Regions from separate parts of the Homo sapiens genome. Here region 2 is linked to region 1. A link means that fine-mapping ties the variant in region 1 to the expression of a gene that starts in the linked region. Tissue or cell type: cultured neurons. Region 1 holds a variant in brackets; the other region holds the start of a gene. All regions are shown on one strand. Distances are from middle to middle.

Region 1 (10,941 bases):
TTAAGAGCTGGGATGTTACTTGACCCAGAGTTCATTCTCAATGGATTTTCTTTTTAGTGAATAGTGAATAAATTCAGTCACAGTGCTCAAAGAATTGGATACATATTTAATGCTCAAGTGGGAGGTCTCTGGAATCAGACTGCCAGGGTTCCTATCAGGGTTGTACTACTCACTGGCTGTGTGACCCTGAGCAAGTCATGTCACTTCTACCCAGTAAGACTATCTCAAAAGGTTGCTATGAGGATCAAAAGAGTTAATACACAAGAAATGCTCAAAACTGAACCTGCAACAGTGTAAGTGCTATGTATTATTGTTATTATTATTATTACTCCTTGTTTGCATTCCTTTTCAAAAGGAGATTTAGGAATAGTACATACAAGTTACATAATAATGATTAAAGTTATTGAGTGCTTATTATGTACCAGGCATACTAATTTACTAATTACTTACAATAGTACATGATCTAGGTACTATTATTATTCCCATTATAAAGTGAGGAACCTCATAGAGTGCCTAAGTAACTACCCCAGAGTCATATAGTACTTTTGGCACTCAGATTTAAACCTAGGCTGTTTAGAAATCTGGGCTCTTATTTAGGTTTTATAAGACTAATACATCTAAATAAGACGCCATTTTACTGCTTCTTAATATTTGGATTCCCTAATGTTAGTAATGTGGAGAGCAGATTGGATATGAAAGGGGCATTTTCTATAAGTGATCAAGTCTTTCTTTAATACTGAGCTATAACAGCCTCACAATAAAACGAGATGAATTTCCAATATTTTAATCTTTTTTCCTTGAGGGGATAGAAAGAGAAGGGGTATTTGTGCATGCCTTTTCCAATCAGTACAATTAGCATGTAGATCCTAAACATATATTATGCATATTTTACCTGATCATCTTAACACAGGGATTAGAACATTTTATGCTTTTTGGTTTACTGTCTTCACCTCTAATTCAGTTATTAAAATAATTCTGACGGTGCAGTTTAAGGTTCATTTCATCGTTAGTCTAAATTTTAATACTGAACATTCTTCACTTTACATTTCACTTATACACTGAGTATAATAATCTGTAGTTCATGTCCATCTAGGATGAAGGTGTTTATGCACCTTTGTTTCGTTTCCTTTTTTTTTTCAAAACTAGTCTCCTTTTGAGTGAAATCTGAACTGCATGTACTATTTGCAATTTGCAGTAGAAGACTGGCGTAAAAAAGAAATAATGAAAGCTATATTAGTATTGTCCCAGAAAATAACTGGTAATGGTGTAATCAATTTTCTCCGGTGATTTCTCTTTCCCTAGTTTTGACTGCTTTGCCTCCATCCATCTGAATGGAAAAAAAATGCTGAGTGCTTTTGCTGATTGCTGTTGGTCATGGACTACATTAACTAGAGTCCTGCAGCTTTACAGATAATTTGGTTTACACCTCTAAGTCTGCCAAATTGTCATCATTTAGCCATATTCATATGAGGCTCTTTCCTCATTAGTCAGTGATAGGCATAGCTATAATACATCTTTAGCGAGAAATGTACCAGGAAGCTCAGGCAGTAGGAGCCAATATTTATTGAGCACCTACTATGTGCCAGGACCCAGGTTAAGTTCTTTGCTACATTATCTAATTTAATCCATGTAATAATCCATTACAACATGTACTGTTATTATACCCATTGTATAGGAGGAAAATATCGAGGCACAGAAAAATAAGTTAACATGTCCATGGTCATACCAGTTAGTTATGAAAATTACTGACCAGGATTTGAAGCCAGGCAGTCTGACTCCACAACCAATGCTGTCTGTCACTATATTGTATTGCCCTCTATGTACTCATGTTTTTTGAATCCTTACAAATCAATTCAACAACATTGAATTAGCCTTTATTTTGTGCCAGGGACTGTGCAAGATACCAGAGATGCTAAGATTATTAAGATGTAGTCTCTTCCCCTAAATTACTCATGACTTAGTGTGAAATTTGTTGTAATAAAGGCACAGAGGGTCACAGAAAAGTAAGTGACTGCCTCAAAGGAGAGGGTTAGAGGCGAGGTCAGGGCAAGCTCCACAGATGAGATGTCTCTTGATCTAAGTTTTAAAATGTGAGAGAAAATATCACGTGCAAAGGCATGGAAGTGTGAAACTACGTAACACCTTAAACAGGTGAGAGACAACACAGCACACTAACTACAAGCATGGATGCTGGAGCTGGATGGCCTGGGCTTGAACCTGGCTCTACTTGGTGTCAGTGTTGAGTTCCTTAGCTTCTTGTGCCTCAGTTTCTCATCTATGCCATGAGGATGGTAATACTAGTAACTCCCTAGTAGTGTAGGGTGATGATTAAATGATTAAGGTACATAAAGCGCTTAGAGGCAGCGGTGCCTGACATAAGTCTCCATGATATCTAGTTATCATTCTTTTTTTTTTTTTTTTTTTTTTTTTAGACAGAGTCTCACTCTGTCACCCAGGCTGGAGGACAGTGGCGTGATCTCGGCTCACTGCAAGCTCCGCCTCCTGGGTTCACGCCATTCTCCTGCTTCAGCCTCCCAACTAGCTGGGACTACAGGCGCCCGCCACCACGCCCGGATAATTTTTTGTATTTTCAGTAGAGATGGGGTTTCACTGTGTTAGCCAGCATGGTCTCGATCTCCTGACCTCATGACCTGCCCGTCTTGGCCTCCCAAAGTTCTGGGATTGCAGGCGTGAGCCACCACACCTGGCCATCTAGTTATCATTCTTATTACCTACAACTTTTATTATTTTTGATGCCTATTAACTCCTCACTGCTATGTTACTGATAAGATAGACTAGACTGGATCACACTCTATTATTTGTTTTCAAGTGTCTCTAAGCTTTTCAGAGGTACCAACCCAGTTCGTTTAAGGAAACTCTAGTTTCCTTACAAAGTTGGTTGGCAATAAATGAGTTGTCCATTCTGCTTAGAAGAACCTAGCAAGTAGTGCTGCTTGGAACTTTCCCCTTAAGACATAATTTTACTCTGAGCCCCCAAGAAAAGAAGAAGGAAGGAAAAGATGAACAGGAATGACCCGTTGAGGGCAAAACCCATGAAAATTGATCATGGCTCTTTTCTCCGACAATGGCATCATTGGCCTGGCAGAGCACAAGAGAGCTATCAGGGGGACTGTCCTCTTGCATGTGCTCAGGAACTTGTCCTCATTGCCTCCAGGTGCTGGGTTTCTTAGAGCCAGAGGTGGCAGGCATGTGGAGGGAAGGCTTCTGTGGATCCTCCCCTCTTCCTCTCAAATGTTCCTTTGTAGATTTAAGAATTAAAAAGTGCAGTAAAATTTGTTTTATAATTATAGCCCCAGGAAACATGAGTTTTAGTCTTAGCTTCGACATTCACTGAGTAATAATTATTGCAAGCACTTATGTAGTGTCTACTATGTGCCAGATGTTTTTGAATCATGTTACTTGCATCACCTCATTTAATTCTTACAAGAGCTCAGTAAGTTGGTATATATGTGTATTTGTCAAGCTTAGCTAGGTTATGCTGTGATAACAAACAACCACCAGATCTCAGTAGTTTGTTTCTCACTCGTGCTCTTTGTTCGTTGTAGGTTCATGGGAATTCCGTTCCACTCTGTCTTCACCCCAGGATGCAGGCTAAGAAAATGACCTTCATACAGAATGTTTCAGATTTTATGTCAGAGAACAGGAAAGGGCAAATCTCACATTAGCTCTTAAAAGTTTCCACAAGGGGATGACACAGACACTTCAGCTCACATTTGATATCCAGACCTAACTTCACGTGGGCATGGAACACATGGCTTATGTGCCTAGAAGTGGAAGAATCAGAATACTGGTGAACAGCTCTAATGACTAATATCATATATAATTATTAGCAGCATTTTGCAGATGAGGACACTGAAGAACAGAGAGATTAAGTAACTTGCCCAAAGTTACATAATTTATAAGTGGTAAAGCTGGGATTTGAATTCAGGCAGTTAGCTCCAGAGAATACTCTTAACTGCTGTCCATAAGCCTTTTCTGAGGCACTGAACCTCGGTTCAGTTTACCCATCTGTAAAATGGGAAAAGAAACTTTTCTTCTATGCCTTACAGGGATGCACTCAAAAGTCATCCATCCATCCATCTATCCATCTGCTCATCCGTTCATCCATCTGTCTTCCATCCATCCATCCATCCATCCATCCATCCATCCATCCATCCACTCTTGTAGTAATTGGCACACAGTTCTGGACTGAACTGTTTTGCCTCAGAATTCATATGTTGGATCCCTATTCCCCAGTGTGAGGTATGTGGACATAGGGCCTTTTGAAGGTAATCACTCTCTCTTTGCCATGTGACAGCATAATGAGAAAGTGGCCATCTACTAGTCAGGAAGAGAACGTTAACCAGGAACTGAATTAGCTGGCACCTTGATCTTGGACTTCCCAGCCTCCAGAACTGTGAGAAATAAATGTCTATTGTTTAAATCACCCAGTCTATGCAGCAATCTATAGCTGCCTGAACAGATTAATACTGATACAATAGAAAGTAACTGGAGAAGATTCTTTGGATTAGGATGTCAGGGAAGGACCATCTCCAGAAGTAACCTGTGAGCTAAGTTTTGCATGTGAAGACGTAGGGAGGAGAAAGAATGATAAGTAAAAGACTGAGGCAGGAATGAGCATGGCATCTTTGAGGAATAAAGGGAGTCAGAGTAGCTGGAATACAGTGATGAGGAAGAAAACAGTAGGCAATACGGGTGCAGGGGGAAGCAGAGGCCAAGTCATAAAAGAAAGATAAAATATACCAGGGATTTTTTCAAACTTTTTGAGAGATTAACCCTTTTTGAGAATCTGCTGAAAACTATGGACATGCTCATCAGAAAAGACCACATTCATATGACATTTTGCATAAAATACCAGAGGTTTTGTAGCCTTCTACCCTCATGTCTATCCAGAACCTAGACTGGGAACATCTGACAAATATAAAGACACTTTGAATAGCACATAGGGAAAGGGAGGGGAGAAAGAGATTTTCATTGTCTGCAAGCTTTCTCTGTGCTGGGAATTCTGCCAGTTATGATAGATTAATTATTTAACATTTTCCATGATCCCATTTTATAAATGATAAGATTCAGGGAGATTCAGGGAGGCTAAGCAATATGCTTTAGGCTAAATGGGTAATAGACAAAGAATTTAAATCGAGGTCAGCTTCACTCCATAGATAATATTGTTGTTATTGTCGTTGTTATTATTATTATTATTAGGTGTAGGGTCTAGTTTTACCCTGCCAAGGGTATTTTAATTATTTGGTGGAGGCTCTACATTTTCAACCAGCCAAGAGTATCCATTTCCTTTTCACTGGCTCTAGTTGAATAGCAGAGCAGCTCAGATTCTAAGTTTCCATTTCTCTACTGCCGCACTGATTATAATGTCGGCCTTTATTACTCCCAGCAGAGCAGTGAAATACAATCCCTACACCACTACCAATTAAGGCAGCTTCAATT[C/A]TATCTACATGTTCTTCCTCTGTGCAGATGCCAGCAGATCTGTTCCAAGACCCTTCCGGTTGTTTAGTATTCTGCTCAGAGGAGTCATTTGCTGATCATCTTCTTTCTTAATTAGGGATCTAATGTATTGCAGCTGACCCTTGAACAAGAGAAAGATGGAGACCTGGCTGGAAAGGAGGTGTGACCATTCATTTCAAGGTAATCAGCTTTGAAGCTGCTTGACATCTGCTATTGATTTTCTTGTGCCTGGAAAACCTCCTGAGAAAGGTTTCTGATCTCAGAAGTCTGAGCAATCTACGCATTTACTTATTCACTCACTGTGCAAGGCCAGGAAATGGCCTGCAATGAAATGAGCAGAGAAATACCTTCTCTGAAAAACCAAATGCATGGGAATGATTTCAAAGCTCCTTCCGGACCACAATGAAGGAGAGATAGTTAGCAACAGACAAGTTCCCTCCCCTCCATAAAGCCTTATACAGAAACTAATACTTAATAAACTACCTTGGGAGGCTGAGGTGGGTGGATCATGAGGTCAGGAGATCGAGACCATCCTGGCTAACACGGTGAAACCCCATCTCTACTAAAAATACAAAAAATTAGCCGGGCGTGGTGGCGGGCACCTGTAGTCCCAGCTACTTGGGAGGCTGAGGCAGGAGAATGGTGTGAACCCGGGAGGCGGAGCTTGCAGTGAGCTGAGATCATGCCACTGCACTCCAGCCTGGGTGACACAGTGAAGACTCCGTCTCAAAATAAAAATAAAAATAAAAATAATAAACTACCATTTACAGTAGACACTCTAAATATATCATTTCTAATATCAAAACACTGTTGGTTTTATTGCCTTTTCTTATGAATGGGGAAATTAAGGCTTAGAGATGTGAATTACTTTGCCCAGTGTCACACAGCAAGTAAATACCTGAGGTGGGGAGGAAAACCCATGTCAATGTGAGTCTCAAGTCTCTGTTCTTTCACTATGCTAGGCTGCCATAATTTTCTAGGTATGCATTTGCCTTCCTTGACTTTTCACTTGTTGTAATTTTGGGCCAGTTAAGTCAGCATCATTCAGAGATAGGGACTCCCTGCTGATGGAATTTGTCTTCCTTAGGTGTCATATCCAAGTAATTACAGAGTGCAGTAGAGCTAGATTACAATACTACACATTGTCAGTAGGTGTCACTATCTTATCTAATGTGATTATTTGTTCAAAAGTACTCACTGAGCACTTGCTATATGAAAGTCTCTAAGGATATAGTCATGAACTGACAGAGTCTCTGTTTCACTCAGCTTACATTTCAGTAGGGGAAAGTCTGAACCATGAAAAAATATATAATATATCAGATAGTGATCAGTGGAATAAATAAATGCTGAGATTTAAGGCTAAATTAATCAGCTTTGTGAGTTCGAAGTGTGTTGAATGAGGGAGGACTGTCTCTAGTGACACGAAACCAGCTGCCACACAATGTAAGAGGTCATCTCTTGAGAAAGGTCCCTGCCACTGACTCAGTTCAATCAAGCAATGAAAATGATCAGTACTCCCACTTCCACAGTGAAACAGATTGGGAAAGGAAAACCTCCCAGCAAGAGTTTACAGGGTTTACTGCCTGAGTGCTCTACTTAAAACCCTTAGCTGTCACCTATAGAATAAGTCCCAATCTTAGCACAATCTACCAGGCCCCTCATGATCTAATTTGCCTCTTCAGCCTGATCTCCAGCCATATCTTCCTTACACTTTACACCCCAGTAAACCAGAACTGCTTTTTGTCTCCCACATGAGTTTGCTACTTCACTCCTATAGCCCATTGTTGAAAATGACCATTCCATTGGAAAGTCATGTTTATTTTTTCTTATTTATTTAATCTCTACTCCTCTTTTAAGATCAAATTCAGTTATCGCCTCCTCAAAGAAGTCCTCCTTGGTTTCCCCAAGCTGAGTTAGGTACACTCTCTGATACTTCTTCAGCATCTTTGAATTCCATCCCTTGACTTCCATAATGTTTTATGATTGGCTGTTTCTGTGTTTAGTTTTCTGCTTGAAGGAAGGAACTAGGTCTTATTGATGTCTATACCCTCATTGCTGTCTGATAGAAATATAATGCAAGGTCAGGCACAGTGGCTCATGCCTTTAATCTCAACACTTTGGGAGACCAAGGTGGGAGGATGGCTTGAGCCCAGGAGTTTGAGACCAGCCTGGACAACATAGTGAGACCTTGTCTCTCGAAAAAAAAAAAAAGCCTGGTGTGGTGGCTCACACCTGTAGTCCCAGCTACTTGGGAGCTGAGGTGGGAGGATTGCTTGAACCCCAAGAGGTTGAGGCTGCAGTGAGCCATGATAGCAACACTGCACTTCAGTCTGGGCAACAGAGTGAGACCTGGTCTCAAAAAAAACAAAACAAACAAACAGAAATATAATGTAAGCCACATATGTAATTTTAAATTTTCTAGCAACCACATTAAAAAGTAAAAAGAAACAGATGAAATTAATGTTCATAATGTAGTTTATTTAACCCAATATATACAAATACTACCATTTCAACATCTAATCAACATGGAAAATTATCAACTAGATAGTTCACATTCTTTTTATTATAACAACATCCTCAAAATCTAGTGAGTATTTTACACTGACAGCACATCTTAATTTATAAGCTAATTTTCATCAAAAATATTTTATCTATATTTAGATTTTATAAAGCATATTCTCAAAAACAGTAGAATTGGCCAGGCACAGTGGCTCACACCTGTAATCCCAGCACTTTGGGAGGCCAAGGAGGGTGGATCACCTGAGGTCAGGAGTTCGAGACCTGCCTTGCCAACATGGCAAAACCCCGTCTCTACTAAAAATACAAAAATTAACTGGGTGTGGTGGCGGGCACCTGTAGTCCCAGCTGCTCGGGAGGCTGAGGCAGGAGAATCACTTGAACCCGGGAAGCGAAGATTGCAGTGAGCCGAGATCGCGCCACTGCACTCTAGCTTGGGTGACAGAGCGAGACTCCGTCTCAAAGAAAAATAAAAAAATAAACAGTAGAATCACATGCTCAAGCTGTTTGAAACAAACTTAAAAGTTTTCTAAAAACAGAATGGAATATCAAAGCATCATTTTCATTTAATTTTTAAATCTATATTGACAAAACTGGCTCATCATTTTAGAACAATCAATTTGACTTTGAATATGCTTTGAAGCCAAAGCATATTCATTTCAAAATCATGTCTGTCCACAGTAAATTCACTAACTCTTATGTCAACTCAGTATCAACATTGGGTTCAAAAGGGTATTGCAAAAATTGGAAAGCAGCTCTAAATTTACTAATATCAATACAATGTTCTTCAAATTTGTCTTGTCATTTTTGCAGCCAATGTACATAATACTGTCAATTACAATCTTCTGCATATTAATTCACATTAGAAAAATGTGTAATATAATTATTGTTGATTTGTATAATGAAAATTATAATTTCAGCAAATTCTCATACTGGTCTTGCTGAGTCACAAATAAACCTTTTCGTTCCATGAAACTTCAAATTTAGCTTGTTTATATGAGTGTGATATTGTCTAGGAATGTAAATCACAATGTCATTTTTTGTCTTTGATTTGGTGAATTTTGCTTCAAGCAAATGGAGTTAATAATACAGTAAATTTTTGTATAACTGTTCCACCACACAACTGATGAACACTAGCAAATATCACAAGATTGTTAAGTTAATTGTCTTCTATTTTGTTCAATAGATCCATAACTGGCAGTAATTCACAACTTTTATATGTATATACTGAAGAATTTTAACACCTGTGCACATGAGGCCTTTCACAGAATATGCTTCGGAAAAATATGCTTCAGAGTACAAATATTTTCATAGTACTTAGTGAAATGAAGCAATAAAGATAGTATCAGTCTGTTGTTTTAAATTCCAATAAATTTGGATTTTTAAAAAAAATCTAAAATAGTTTGAACACCATCCACCATGATAGAAAAATTTTATTTCCCACATCTAAGTAAAATTATTCTTTGGCAGATATAAAAGAGTTTAAAATAACTTTGCTACGAGTTCCATATTTTAGGTCATGGGTTGATAACAGATTTTTGTCTTCTAAATTTGCAAGCATTTTGAGACAACCTGCCCCCAGGTTGGGTAGTGTCTCTATTATTCTCAACTCATTTAAAGCTAAAATGAAGTCCTTTCAATTTATTCATATTTGAATAAATTTACCTTTGATATTGTTAGAAAAGTCTTCAATTATATGGACAATTGTTTGGTGGCATAATTGAAGTTCTTCTACTTTTTTTTTTTTTTTTTTTTTTGAGACAGAGTCTCTCTCTGTCACCAGGCTAGAGTGCAGCGGCGTGATCTTGGCTCATTGCAACCTCTGCCTCCCGGGTTCAAGCTATTCTCCTGCCGCAGCCTTCCCAGTAGCTGGGATTACAGGCGCATGCCACCACACCCAGCTAATTTTTGCATTTTTAGTAGAGACAGGGTTTCACCATATTGGCCAGGATGGTCTCGATCTCCTGACCTTGTGATCAGCCTGCCTTGGCCTCCCAAAGTGCTGGGATTACAGGCGTGAGCCACCAAACCCAGCCCCACTTTTTGTAAAATATCATTTTTAGTCTTTTCCTTACTACAAGCTTGGATTCTGTTAAAAATCATTTAAATTTTTTGACATTAATTCTGATGCCAGGTGGCTAGTTCAGTTAATCATTTTTTAATTTTTCAGGAGGAACTTATCAAATTCACCAAGTATTTGCTATAAATGTCTCGATACTGTCTATTACATTTTTCTTTCTGTTTTGTTTCTTTCTTTTTTTCTTTTCAAAACAGAGGGTCTCTTAGATTTGTTCTGCTGAAGTAAATTGCAATTGTCATTCATTGTAAAGTTTACAATATGCTTTCTTCCACTCTCTTATTTTTTTTCCATTCTAATCATAGTATTAATTTCTGCATCTCCATTATTTTAAGTAGAAAAAATTTGTCCATATTTATTTTTATACTAAAAAATAATTTAATTGTATTATAATTAAAATAATAACAAGTTCTTCAATTTAATTACCAATTAAGATTCACATAGTTACCACAGTAATTGGAGTTGTTAATATAAAACATTCAAAGATACATGTTACAATATTGCATTGCTGTGTAGGAAAAAAACATTTAAACTGAATCAATCCATCCACACTGACTGGATCAGTGATGTACTTATGCATAATAGTGGAAGCAACATGTGTACCCAAAAAGTGCATTAGTATACAGCACTGCTATATGAGGCCATGCAAAGGCTAAAGTGAGGTAGAGTTCAATCAAAACAATAATGTTGAATTTAATAGAAAAGTATTTTATATTGTTTCCATTTTAAAATTTAAATCTAAATTAATAATACAAATTTTAGGCCGGGCGTGGTGGCTCAGATCTGTAATCCCAGCACTTTGGGAGGCCAAGGCAGGTGGATCACCTGCGGCCAGGAGTTTGAGATCAGCCTGGTCAGCAGGGCGA
Region 2 (10,941 bases), 510 kb before region 1:
TGTAAAATGGAGATGATAATATTTATACTCACCCTCAGAGAGTTGGGAGGATTAGAAATTCTATCTACCTAATTCTTTCTTTCTATCTATCTCTATGCATCCAAAATCTATCTATCTATCTATCTATCTATCTATCTATCTATCTATCTACACCTATCTATATAAAATCTATCTATCTATCTCTATCCATCCAAAATATATCTATCTATCCATCTATACCTATCTAAAATCTATCTATCTCCATCCAAAATCTATCTATCTATCTATCTATCTATCTATCTATCTATCTATCTATCTTCTCTATCTATCTAAAATCTATCAATTGATCTAAAATCTATCTGTATCTAAAATGTATCATCTATCTATATCTATCTAAAATCAATCAATCTCTCTCTCTCTCTCTCTCTCTCTCTCTCTCTCTATATATATATATATATAAAATCTATCTATTTCTTCTAGGTGATGGTTATTATTGCATGCATAAGAGTTTTAAAAATACGAAATACTCCACAAATGGAAGGTATGGCTTTGAGCATGGTTTGGGAGTCAGGCTTTACTACTTCCTAACTATGTGACCTTGGGACATTTCTTAACTTCTCTAAACCTTAATTTTCTCATCCGTAAAATGGGGTTTGTAATAGTACCTGCTTCACAGAGTTACTGTGAAGATTTAGAAGTAAACTGGCCCAATGATTTGAACAGTGCCAGGCACAAAGCAACGAATGTTAGCTGTTTGTCATTAACCGTAAGCACCTTTATCAAAAAGGTATCTAGAGATTTTGTAAAGTCCAGGATACATTAATAGCATTAAAGCTATTGTCCTCATTTTTCTGGCCCCGATGGCTTACGTTTTCTGGGCATGGACACCCCTCTCCCAGTCCTCTGAAAAGTGTTTTTAGTACGGGCCATGCTGAGGGTGTGTTAGGTGCCACAATGGCTGGACTTATCTTGCTCATGCATAGCTTCCGAGGTCGATTAAACATGGTATTTAACCAACCTCCCTCCACACACACTGCCTTCTAGGGAGGACTGGAAAGCCTGCTGACTGTCCTGCAGGACTTGGGAGGGGTTTGTCTATATCCAAAAGACAGACAGTGGAGGAGGATGCTGAGCGTGGGGTCCCGCCAGGGGATGGCTAGACTCCTTGTCTGTCTGGCTCCCTTGTGAAATACTGGGAAATTAAAGGCCATTGTAAACATTTCCCAAAAGCAGTAAAGATTTTTTTATGCAGATGGGGATGTGACTCACTTTACCAAAGTTAAAGGGTCTAGAGCGTTGTGCTGAGGTTAGGAAGAATTGGAGGTTTTTGTTTTCTGATTAAAACATTGAATTTTAATTTTGGAGTTGAAGCTGTGCATGTTTCTCTCCCAGGTAGATCTGGGAGTAGGGAAAGGGGGTGTAGTAGGGTCGGGGGAGGAGTCTCAGGAGGGAGGGAGAGGGTGGGGTGCTGAGAAGTGTGCTCTGAGTATGCCGCATTTAGCAACTCTACCCTTATAGAAAAAACAGCTTAGAATCTCAGTGTGAAGGGACGTGAGTTGGCATCTGGTCAACCCTCTCATTTTGCAGCTGAGGCACACAGGGAGGAGCAGGTAGCTTGGATAGGGTTACTTACCCATGAGCCAAAGACCAACACTGGCTTCAAGCCTGCTCAGCACTGGGATGCTGACTTCTCTCTACCAGTGACCCACAATGCGTGACACTGGTGGCCCACAGGATGATTTAGGGGGGACACAAATGAACATGGATAATTTTAACAGTTAGATATTTATTTCAAGGTGTATTAGGAAAAATTATCTGGCCCATAAAACTCATAATCTATGGTAGTGATACAAAACACCATTTAAAAATATATTTAAGCAGAGCAAGAGGGAATTGTGTGTGTGTGTGTTTCTAAAATGTTGGCTAAATAACAGAATGGGTGACCTGTAGGGTGTCCTAAATCATGACCACAGTCCACTCCATCTTTAGGGCTTTTGGTGCTACAGGAGGCAGTCTGAGGAAGGCCTTTCAGGCTCTCCTAGAGTTTTAAGTCTGAGAAGGAGCAAACTTCCCCAGAGCATCCCCCCTCCCCTTCTCATCCTCCTTTCTTCTCCATTTCTCTCCTCCTTTGACTTTGTCTTCTTCCTTTCCATCCCCAGTGCCCAGAACAACCAGTAGGCAGCGGGAGTGGCTGGCCCTGGGTTGCTCTGGGAGGTCAGGATCTGCCTCACTCTACCCATTCCAGGAGCTTGGATTTATGTGGCACCCTGGCCACCAGGGGCAAAGCCTCAGGCCTTTTGCTCATCCTATCTCCAGGCATGTTAAGCTCACTCCATCTATCATTTTGGCCAGGGCTTCCTAACCTGTGAAGCAACTCAGCCTAAGCTATTAATGGGTTATAGTGGATAAATATGTAACAAGCAACCTCCTCCCACAACCCTTGACCTATGGCGATGGTACCTTAATACACCTTCAAGTCCTTCTCCCAAAGTCATAATTAAAAAATAAAACCAAAAGACTATGAAAGGTGGCACTGTTTATGTGTGGGTTCTAGCTAGGGTTAAAATAAAATGAATGAAAGTTCTTCTCTGCCAGCCTTCCTAAGAACAGCAACTGCAGGGGACTGACTTCGAGAGTCTTATCTATTGAGTGTCTTCTAGAATCAAACCCTTCATGAAGGCATCAGCTTTGTTTTGTTCACCACTGCATCCTCAGTGCCCAGAACACTGCCTGGCACTGGGTAGGGGTTTAGTTGGTATTTGTTGAGTAAACTAATGAGAGTATCAGGCTGTGTGCTCGGTGTTGGCGCTCCAGTTGTGGTTTCTGCCCTTAAGGTCTAGCCCAGAAGAGGAAACTGCAGATGGTGAGATGGTGCAGTAAGATGGGGCTGTGCTAGGCCCAGAGCTCGCTCACAGGAGGGCATGAATCGCATCATGCTTGGGCAAGCAGAGGAGGCTTTAAGCGGGGAAGGTACTTAAGTTGGGTCTTGAAGTATGATTCTCAAGGGGAAGGTAGGCTATGACGTGATCTGAGGTGTATAAAGTACAGGTAGGTTTGGGAGAGCTTGGCTTAAAGAGGAGTTACCATTTCTGCCCCTGGAGTCAGATTCTGGCTCCTTCCTTCCTTTCCTTCCTTCCTTCCCCCCTCCCTCCCTCCCTCCTTCCTTCCTTCCCTCCCTTACTCCCTTCCCTTCCTTCCGTCCCTCCCTTCCTTCCTTCCTTCCCTTACTTCCCTTCCACCCTCCCTCCCATCTTTCCTTCCTTCCCTCCCTCCCTCCTGTCTTTCCTTCCTTCTTCCTTCCTTCCTTCCCTCCTTCCTTTCCTCCCTTCCTTCCTTCTTTCTCCTTCCCTCCCTTCCTTTTCTTCCTTCCTTCCTCCCTCCCTTTCTCTTTCCTCCCTTCCTTCTTTCTTTTTTCTCTCTCCTTCTCTTTCCTTCCTTCTCTTCTCTTCTCTCTCTCTTTTTTTCCTTCTGACACAGCATCTCACTTTGTCACCCAGGCTGGAGTACAATGGTGCAATGATAGCTCACCGCAGCCTTGACCCCCTGGGCTCAAGCAATCCTCCTGCCTCAGTCTCCCAAAGTGTCAGAATTATAGATGGGAGCCACTATATCTGGCTCTCTGGCCATTTCTGACAATACACCAGCCCCAGGACTTCAGCAACTCCAGCTCGTGTCTTCCACTCCTCTGTTCCCCATCTCACTCTCACTGGCCCTCCTTGGCTCCAGCCAAAGTTATCAGGGCCTTGCGTTGCCACTGCGGGTGTTTGTTTTCAGATGATAGCATTCGAGGGGGCTCGACTCAAGAACACCAACCATGGATAAGGGCTGGAAGCAATGGTGTCCCGGAGCTGGCTCAGACTTGCTTATAAGAGGTGATTGTTAAATATTTAGACATCTTGTCAGCCAGTTATTAGATCATTGTTAGGTTGAAATCATTTGTGGTGGAAATATTTATACCCCAGAAACTGGCAAACACAACATATTAGGGTTCCCCCCTGTTTTCCCCAGAGAGCCAGTTTGCCAGCACACCACTGGCTGGAAGACAGTTTATGACTGTTTTCAGTATTCCAGGTAAGGATATGACATGTTGCACAAATGGCTTGATTGTCATTTTGTTAAAATAAAATATTTAAAAGCTTGACTTTAAAGCATCCAAAAAGGACACTCAAATGTTCCACACACATGAGCTGCCTGGGTGACCTTTTCTGGTGCAATCCTCAGAATAAGGCCTCTCCTTCCATCTTGGTTTATTTGGAGATTGCAGAGAAAGCCGGTAAAATACTGGTGATTTTGTCAACACTATGCTATTCAAGGACACAAAATAGAAAGGGAAGTTGGGTGCTGAGGCTAATATAGGACTGAGTTCATCAAAAGGGCCTTATTGTTCTCTTGATGAACTCTATCATACATGTTGTAAATGAAAAGTTATTGAATAAAATTACAGCTAATCTAATGCTACTTTTATCCATGATTTCAAGTTTCCTGTAGGATTTCATGCAAAAGGAGAGTTTTGAGTGGCCCAGTTCACTCATGTTTTGAAAGAGGACACAGCAGCCCCCGAGAGGAAGTCACTCTGTTTTGGTGGTACAACTGGAAAGGAAAAGGAAAGGAAAACTCACAGGGGAAGGAAGGGGTTTTTTTTTTTTTTTTTTTTTGGGAGACAGAGTCTCGCTGTGTCGCCCAGGCTGGAGTGCAGTGGTGTGATCTCGGCTCACTGCATCCTCCGCCTCCCAGGTTCAAGTGATTCTCCTGCCTCAGCCTCCCGAGTAGCTGGGATTACGGGTGCCCGCTGCCACGCCCGGCTAATTTTTTTTTTTTTTTTATTTTAGTAGAGACGGGGTTTCACTATGTTGCCCAGACTGGTCTCGAACTCCTGAGCTCAGGCAATCCTCCCGCCTCGGCCCCTCAAAATGCTGGGATTACAGGCATGAGCCACTGAGCTTGGCTGGGGTTTTTTTATTTTTAAGTTAGGACTCTCATCTCCCTCTCAGGGCCCTTTCCTTGATGAGGAAAGAAGTGAAAGTGTCCAAATTTCATTATTTTGGCAGGAAATAAAACCACCATCGTGAGCCGGGTACAGTGGCTCACACCCACAATCCCAGCCACTCGGGAGGCTGAGCAGGAGGATCGCCTGAGGCCAGGAGTGTAAGATCACCCTGGACAACATAGTGAGACCCTGTCTCTAACAAAATAAAAAAAGTAGCCATGTTTGGTGGTGCACGCCAGTAGTCCCAGCTACTTGGGTGGCTGAGGTGGGAGGATGGCTTGAGCCTAGGAGTTTGAGGCTACAGTGAGCTATGATCACGTCACTGTACTCCAGCCTGGGCACCAGAGACAGACTCCATCTCTTTAAAAAAAATCACCATCGTGTTCGATGCCAACAGCACCTGAACACAACCCACGCTTGCTAGTGTTTCATAACATGCACCTACAGGGGCTAATGTGGTTTAGCCTTGCTGGTTTCTCTGACCTCATCTCCTACCACTTGCCCCCTCCCTCTCTCTTTTACTTCCTAGAACTCACCAAGCTCAGTGTTGCCTCAGGGACTTTGCCCTTGGTACTCCCTCTGCCTGCAAAGCTCTCGCTGCAGCCAGTCCCATAGCTAGGCAGCGCCTTCTCATGATCTGAATAGCTGATGGATCATCCCATCTAAAGCAGCCCATCTGTTACTCCCAGTCATATGCTATTGCATTACTCTGTTTTGTGTTTTTCCTCGCACTTAGCACTGTCTGAAATTATTTTGTATTAATAGTTTTCTATACCCTCCAAAATAATAAGCAAAATATGGGCTCTATGAGAGTAGGGACTTGGTCTTTTAAACTCGCAAATGTATTCCCTGCTCCTTGCACACTAGCAGGTGTTTAGGAACAATTTACTGAATGAATAAAGGGATGCTGACCCTGGTACCTAGGCCCTCTTTTGACCTAAGCGGGTGGTTTTCAAACTGAATTCTATGGAGGGAATGGCGCCATGCCGGGAGCCCGGCTGGGTGGGTCTCTAGATCTCTTTTCTTTTTTCATTCAGAACAGCTCCACTAGGATCTGTTTAATATACTAAGTGTTTTCATTGTTCATTGGACAAAGGGCTCAAAGTCAAAAGAGCAAAGCCAGGTCACTGTTGAGGAAGCATTGGGTGGAAGGTTGGACGCCACATCTTTGGAAGTCCTCTTTAACCCCAATACTTGTGATTCCATGAATGGGACACAAGTCGAGTCAGCTTTGATATTGAGATGCGGTGGCAAGAAGAGAAGGACCATGACAGACGTGTTCTGGCGAGGGAGTGGGTGGGGGTTCCCCAAGCATGGGGGTGGGGGTCTTCCAGAGGGCGGCAGCCTGGTTCTAAGTTCTTCCTGCAGCTGCCTCAGCTACCTGCCCCTGAGTCATGACCTGCGATGCACTGGCTGATGCTTTTAGCTGAGGCCACATTTGAGGATCCAGCATTTTCCGACCACAACTTTAAACATAATGTTTGCTCCTCCACTCACCAAGAGAGCAACGGTCTTGCTCTCTGCGGTCTCATTAAATAGGATTCTATTTTCACAGCACTCACTTTTAGGACATTCTTATTTGCTGTTCCAGGCTCTCGGAGAGGCAGCCCAAGAGGCGCTGCTGCTAAAATGACTCTGGGCACGGTAGAGATGGGGAGATACGGAAATGAATAGCAGCTTTGTTTATTTGGCATGGGACCAGGCAAGAGGAGCTATATTAAAAAATAAATAAAGTTCCCCTTCTTTCCTCAAGACAAAAAACAAAACAAAACAAACAAAAAAAAACAAACCTATTCCGGCTGCGTGGCCAACAACACAATTTCCCTCACAGAACAGAACAGATGTGAGTACATTGAGATTAACTTTGTAGGAAGAAATTTAAAAAAATAAAATAATGATGAGCGGTCGTGGGATAGGGCTGGTGAGGGGGTAATATCAAGAGTATTTGAGATGCCCTCATTAGGAAGCCGGAAATAAAATGAAGCAATGGCCTGAGTATGGTTCTATCGACATATAGACACTCTGAGGCACCCACATATCCACAGGGCTCCCAAGTATTCCTGATTCCCTCTCTCGCAGACCTGGCTTGAGGTCTTCCCACAGTGGGGAAGAGATAATAACTATTAATAGTATGGCCATTCTCTGAGCATTCACCATGTGCCAAGCTCTGTGCCGAGTATCCCGTGCACACCATAATGGATGTAATTCACCATTCTTCCCACTGGCTTCGCTTGTCTGAGCTTCAGTTTTCCCTTCTGTAAATGGGTTTAATCAGATTACCTACCCCAGAGAGCTGCTGTGACAACTGAGTAGGAAAACGCACATGAACTACGAAGCACAGGGCCTGGCACCTAGTATGCGGTCAATAAATACACGGTTTATGATGGTGACTATTTTCCGTAAGGTATTTCAAATTCAAAATGTTAAAACCTGAACCCATTCTCTTTCCCCTTCAAGCCATTTTTTCTTGATTGTACACTTCAGTAATGGAATCGTGATAATCTTGAGTTCTTTTCCCGCCTGGCACAGTCAGTTCCCAAATTCATTCAAGTCTGCCGTTTTTCATATCACTCGACTGCATCCTTATCTCATTCCTCACGGCCTTGCTTCCTGCCTGGGTACAAACCCTTATCATCTCTTCTCTGAACTGCCGCAGTTTCTTCCTAATGGGGCCCTAATCCCCCGCTTCCAACCCCCACCCCTCTCTTCTCTTCACACCACTGCCAGGACGCCTTTTTTCCCTTATGAATCTGACCATGCCTATTCTTTGCTTGAAACCCACCAGTGGGTCTCTCTCACCAAGAAGATAAAGCCTGTATTCTAGAGTGTAGCATGAAACACTCTCATGATCTGGCCCCAGTCTCACTTTCTCTTCCTGGCCTCACTCCAGCCCAGGGCTTGTCCACACTGGCTTCACATTAGCATCACCAGGGGATAATACAATGCCAGCATCTGGGCCTTACTCCAGTCAATCACATTAGAGTCCCTGGGATTAGGCCCTGGGCAGAAGTGGAATTTACAAGCTTCCCGGGTGCTTCGAATGCACTGCCAGGGTTAAGCATCGCTGCTTCCCCCCATTCTGAGCAGCTTGCTTGGGCCTTTATGCTTTTGTGTGTAGGTCCTGCTGTGTTGGACAGTTTGCTCTGCTTTTTCTACCTGCGATGTCTCCTTATCTTTGGAGACACAGCTGAAGTTTCCCACCTTTATGGAAGTCTTCCCTGGGACCCCCTCGAAGGGGCTCCTGTTGCCCATGACATTTCCTGCTATGACAATGTAATCATTTGCTTGCATGGCTAGATTCCTGCTAGAAAGGGACCCCCTTGGGAGGCCCAATGTCCATTCATCTTTGGATCCTCACACTGTTGTGGTTGTCTAAGTACAGCGTCTACACACACTTACATGTTTTTTTGATAAATGAAAATATCATTGGAGATTTGTCCTCCATCATGACTCTAACTGGATTCTCAGCTCTTGGCTTATATTTCTGCTTTAGAGTTTATTCATTCTGCCTTGATCACAGTACATTGTCTACATGATCTTCCTCCACCACCTGTCCTCACTCTGGGAGCTTATTTCCTACCACTTTTTACCTCAAGCACTCACTCCTGCTCCATTGGCCTCCTCCCTGTTCCTTGACCTCCCTGTTCCTGCCCCAGGGCCTTCGTCTGTGCTGTTCCTTCTGCTGTCATGCCCTTCCTCCACATGTCCACATGACTCACTCTCTCCTTCCTTTACATGGCACCTCACAGAAAGGCTTCTCTGATCACATTCGTCACACTCTGCCTCTTACTTGGTGTCTTTCTTTTTCAGAGCCCTTCTCATCTCCTGATATATGGAAGATTTATTTGTTTATTCTTTTCTTCATCTGCTTCCCTCCATAGCATGTAAGCTGCATGGGGCAGGGACTTGATTGTGTTTGATATTGCATCTCCAGTGCCTAGAATAGTGCCTGGCATGTACAAAGTGCCTGGATGCTATAAATACTTCTTCAATACACGAATGAATGAAGATGATTTGCTTTCTAGTAAGCCAGTATTTTCTTTCTTTCCTTTTCTTTTCTTTCTTTCTCTTTCTTTCTTTCTCTCTCTTTCTTTTTCTTTCTTTCTTTTCTTTCTTTCTTGCTTTCTCTCTCTCTCCCTCTCTCTTTCTGACAGGGTCTTACTCTGGGGCCTAGGCTGGAGTGCAGTGGCATGATCATGGCTCCCTGCAGCCTCAATCTCCCATATTCAGGTGATCCTCCCACCTCAGCCTCCCAGGTATCCAGGACAACAGGTGTGCACCACCACACCTGGCATTTTTTTATTTTTATTTTTAGTAAAGATGGGTTTTGCCATGTAGCCCAGGTTGGTCTTGAACTCCTGGACTCAAGCTATCCACCTGCCTCTGCCTCCCAAAGTGTTGGGATTACAGGCATGAGCCACTGACCCTAGTCAAGCCAATATTTTTCAAACTGTGAGTTTGAAATTGGTCATCAAATCAACTTAATGGATCACAACCAACATTTTAAAAAATAAAATACACTAGAACTGAAGATATCACAATTCCTTGAACATAGTAAGGGCAAGTATTATTCTGTAAAACTTATCTTGGTCAATATACAGTATCTAGCAATCAGGTGGCAAGACAAAATGTATTCCTCATTGGGGTTTATTGTACACATTTTTGGAAAAGCATTGTGTTAGGCCAGAGATTGGCAAACGTTTCCTGTAAAGAGTCCAGTGGTAAATATTTTAGGCTTTGTAGGACATAAAAACTATTGAACTCTGATTTTGTAGTGTGAAAGTAGCCACAGACATTATGTGCACAAATAAGCAGGGCCATGTTATAATAAAACTTTATTAACAAAATCAGGTTGTGGGGCTAGATTTGGCCTGTGGGTGGTAGTTTGCCAAGCCCTGCGCTAGACTGTTGTCTAGCCTGTGACTATGTTTCATATGTGTAAATTCCCTTTATACAGGAGCTATGTCTTTTTCATCTCTGAATCTTAACCATGAGTGTGTCATCCCAGCATCTAACCCATTGATTAAATATAACAAATGTTCATGAAATGTTTGCCAATATATTCAATGAACATTTATTGACTCCTTAACTCCAAACAGCTTGGCACCAAATCCATCAGTATTTGTTGAATGAATGTAAGAGCCATGTCTTAGTCTGTCTGGGCTGCCATAACAAAATATCTTAGACTGGATAATTCAGAAATTTATTGCTGACAGCTCTGCAGGCTGGGAAGTCCAAGATCTAGGTGTCAGCAGATCAGTGTCTGATGAGGGCTTTATAGATGGTGACTTTTGCTGCATTCTCACACAGCGGAAGGGGCAAGGGAGCTCCCTCACACCTCCTACGTAAGGGCACTGATCCTATTCACGTGGGCAGAGTCCTCATGACTTAATCACTTCCCAGAGGAACCACCTCTTAATACTATCACATTGGGTATTAGGTTCCAACATATGAACCTAATAATATGTTTAGGAAGACACCAACATTCAGACCATGGCAAGCCATTAGTCTCAAATTCTCAAAAGCCTTTGCCCCTCCTCCAACCCTTCTGAAGATCAGGACTCAGAGCTCAAAGGTGTCCTTGCCCCAGCCGCTTGGGTCACTTGCTGCCAGGGGCCAGAAGGGGTGGTGGGAAGGTGATGGGAACAACAGGGTTTGATGGACTGTTTGGGGAACTGTCTAATTATCCTGCTTATCAGTGCTGGTTCCTTTTCTTAGCTCTTTCCCTTAATAAATGAAAACTCCTTCTGTTGTTATTGAGCTCCCGGGTCACTGATTCTTTTGAGTCATATAAACCACATGTTTATAGAGTTACAGTGTGACCGTGAAATTGAATGGAGGGGAAGGGAGGCACCAGAGAAGTGTCAGCCTTGAAAGGCAACACTTTCTCTTCCCAGGCTTCTGCTCATTGTGTAGGGCAAAGGACAGGGCTTTCCGCTGTCCAGGGCCCTGGCCTAGGCGGGGAGGGGAGCTGA

Direction of the effects. Alleles are on the strand shown, and positions count from the first base shown. SD is a standard deviation of normalised expression in the study named.
In carriers of allele C in region 1, the expression in cultured neurons of the gene that starts at base 5,788 in region 2 tends to be lower than with A alone (moderate effect, 0.47 SD a copy in Aygun 2021).

What was found. PIP is the estimated chance that this variant, and not a neighbour inherited with it, causes the effect.
Region 2: SYN3-AS1 starts here. The variant in region 1 is the best candidate, but not a certain one, in a credible set for the expression of SYN3-AS1 in cultured neurons (Aygun 2021, PIP 0.65).

The regions. Positions count from the first base shown.
Region 1 is chr22:33,076,817-33,087,757 of GRCh38, forward strand. It overlaps a transcript of LARGE1 not described here. Among named protein-coding and RNA genes, the nearest start is that of SYN3, 24 kb to the left of the region's middle. The variant C/A (reference allele first, on the strand shown) is at 5,464.
Region 2 is chr22:32,569,152-32,580,092 of GRCh38, forward strand. SYN3-AS1 (SYN3 antisense RNA 1) reads left to right here and starts at 5,788. Exons shown (of 4, transcript XR_001755503.2): 1 at 5,788-10,941. All of the region lies in intron 7 of SYN3 (synapsin III), which reads right to left.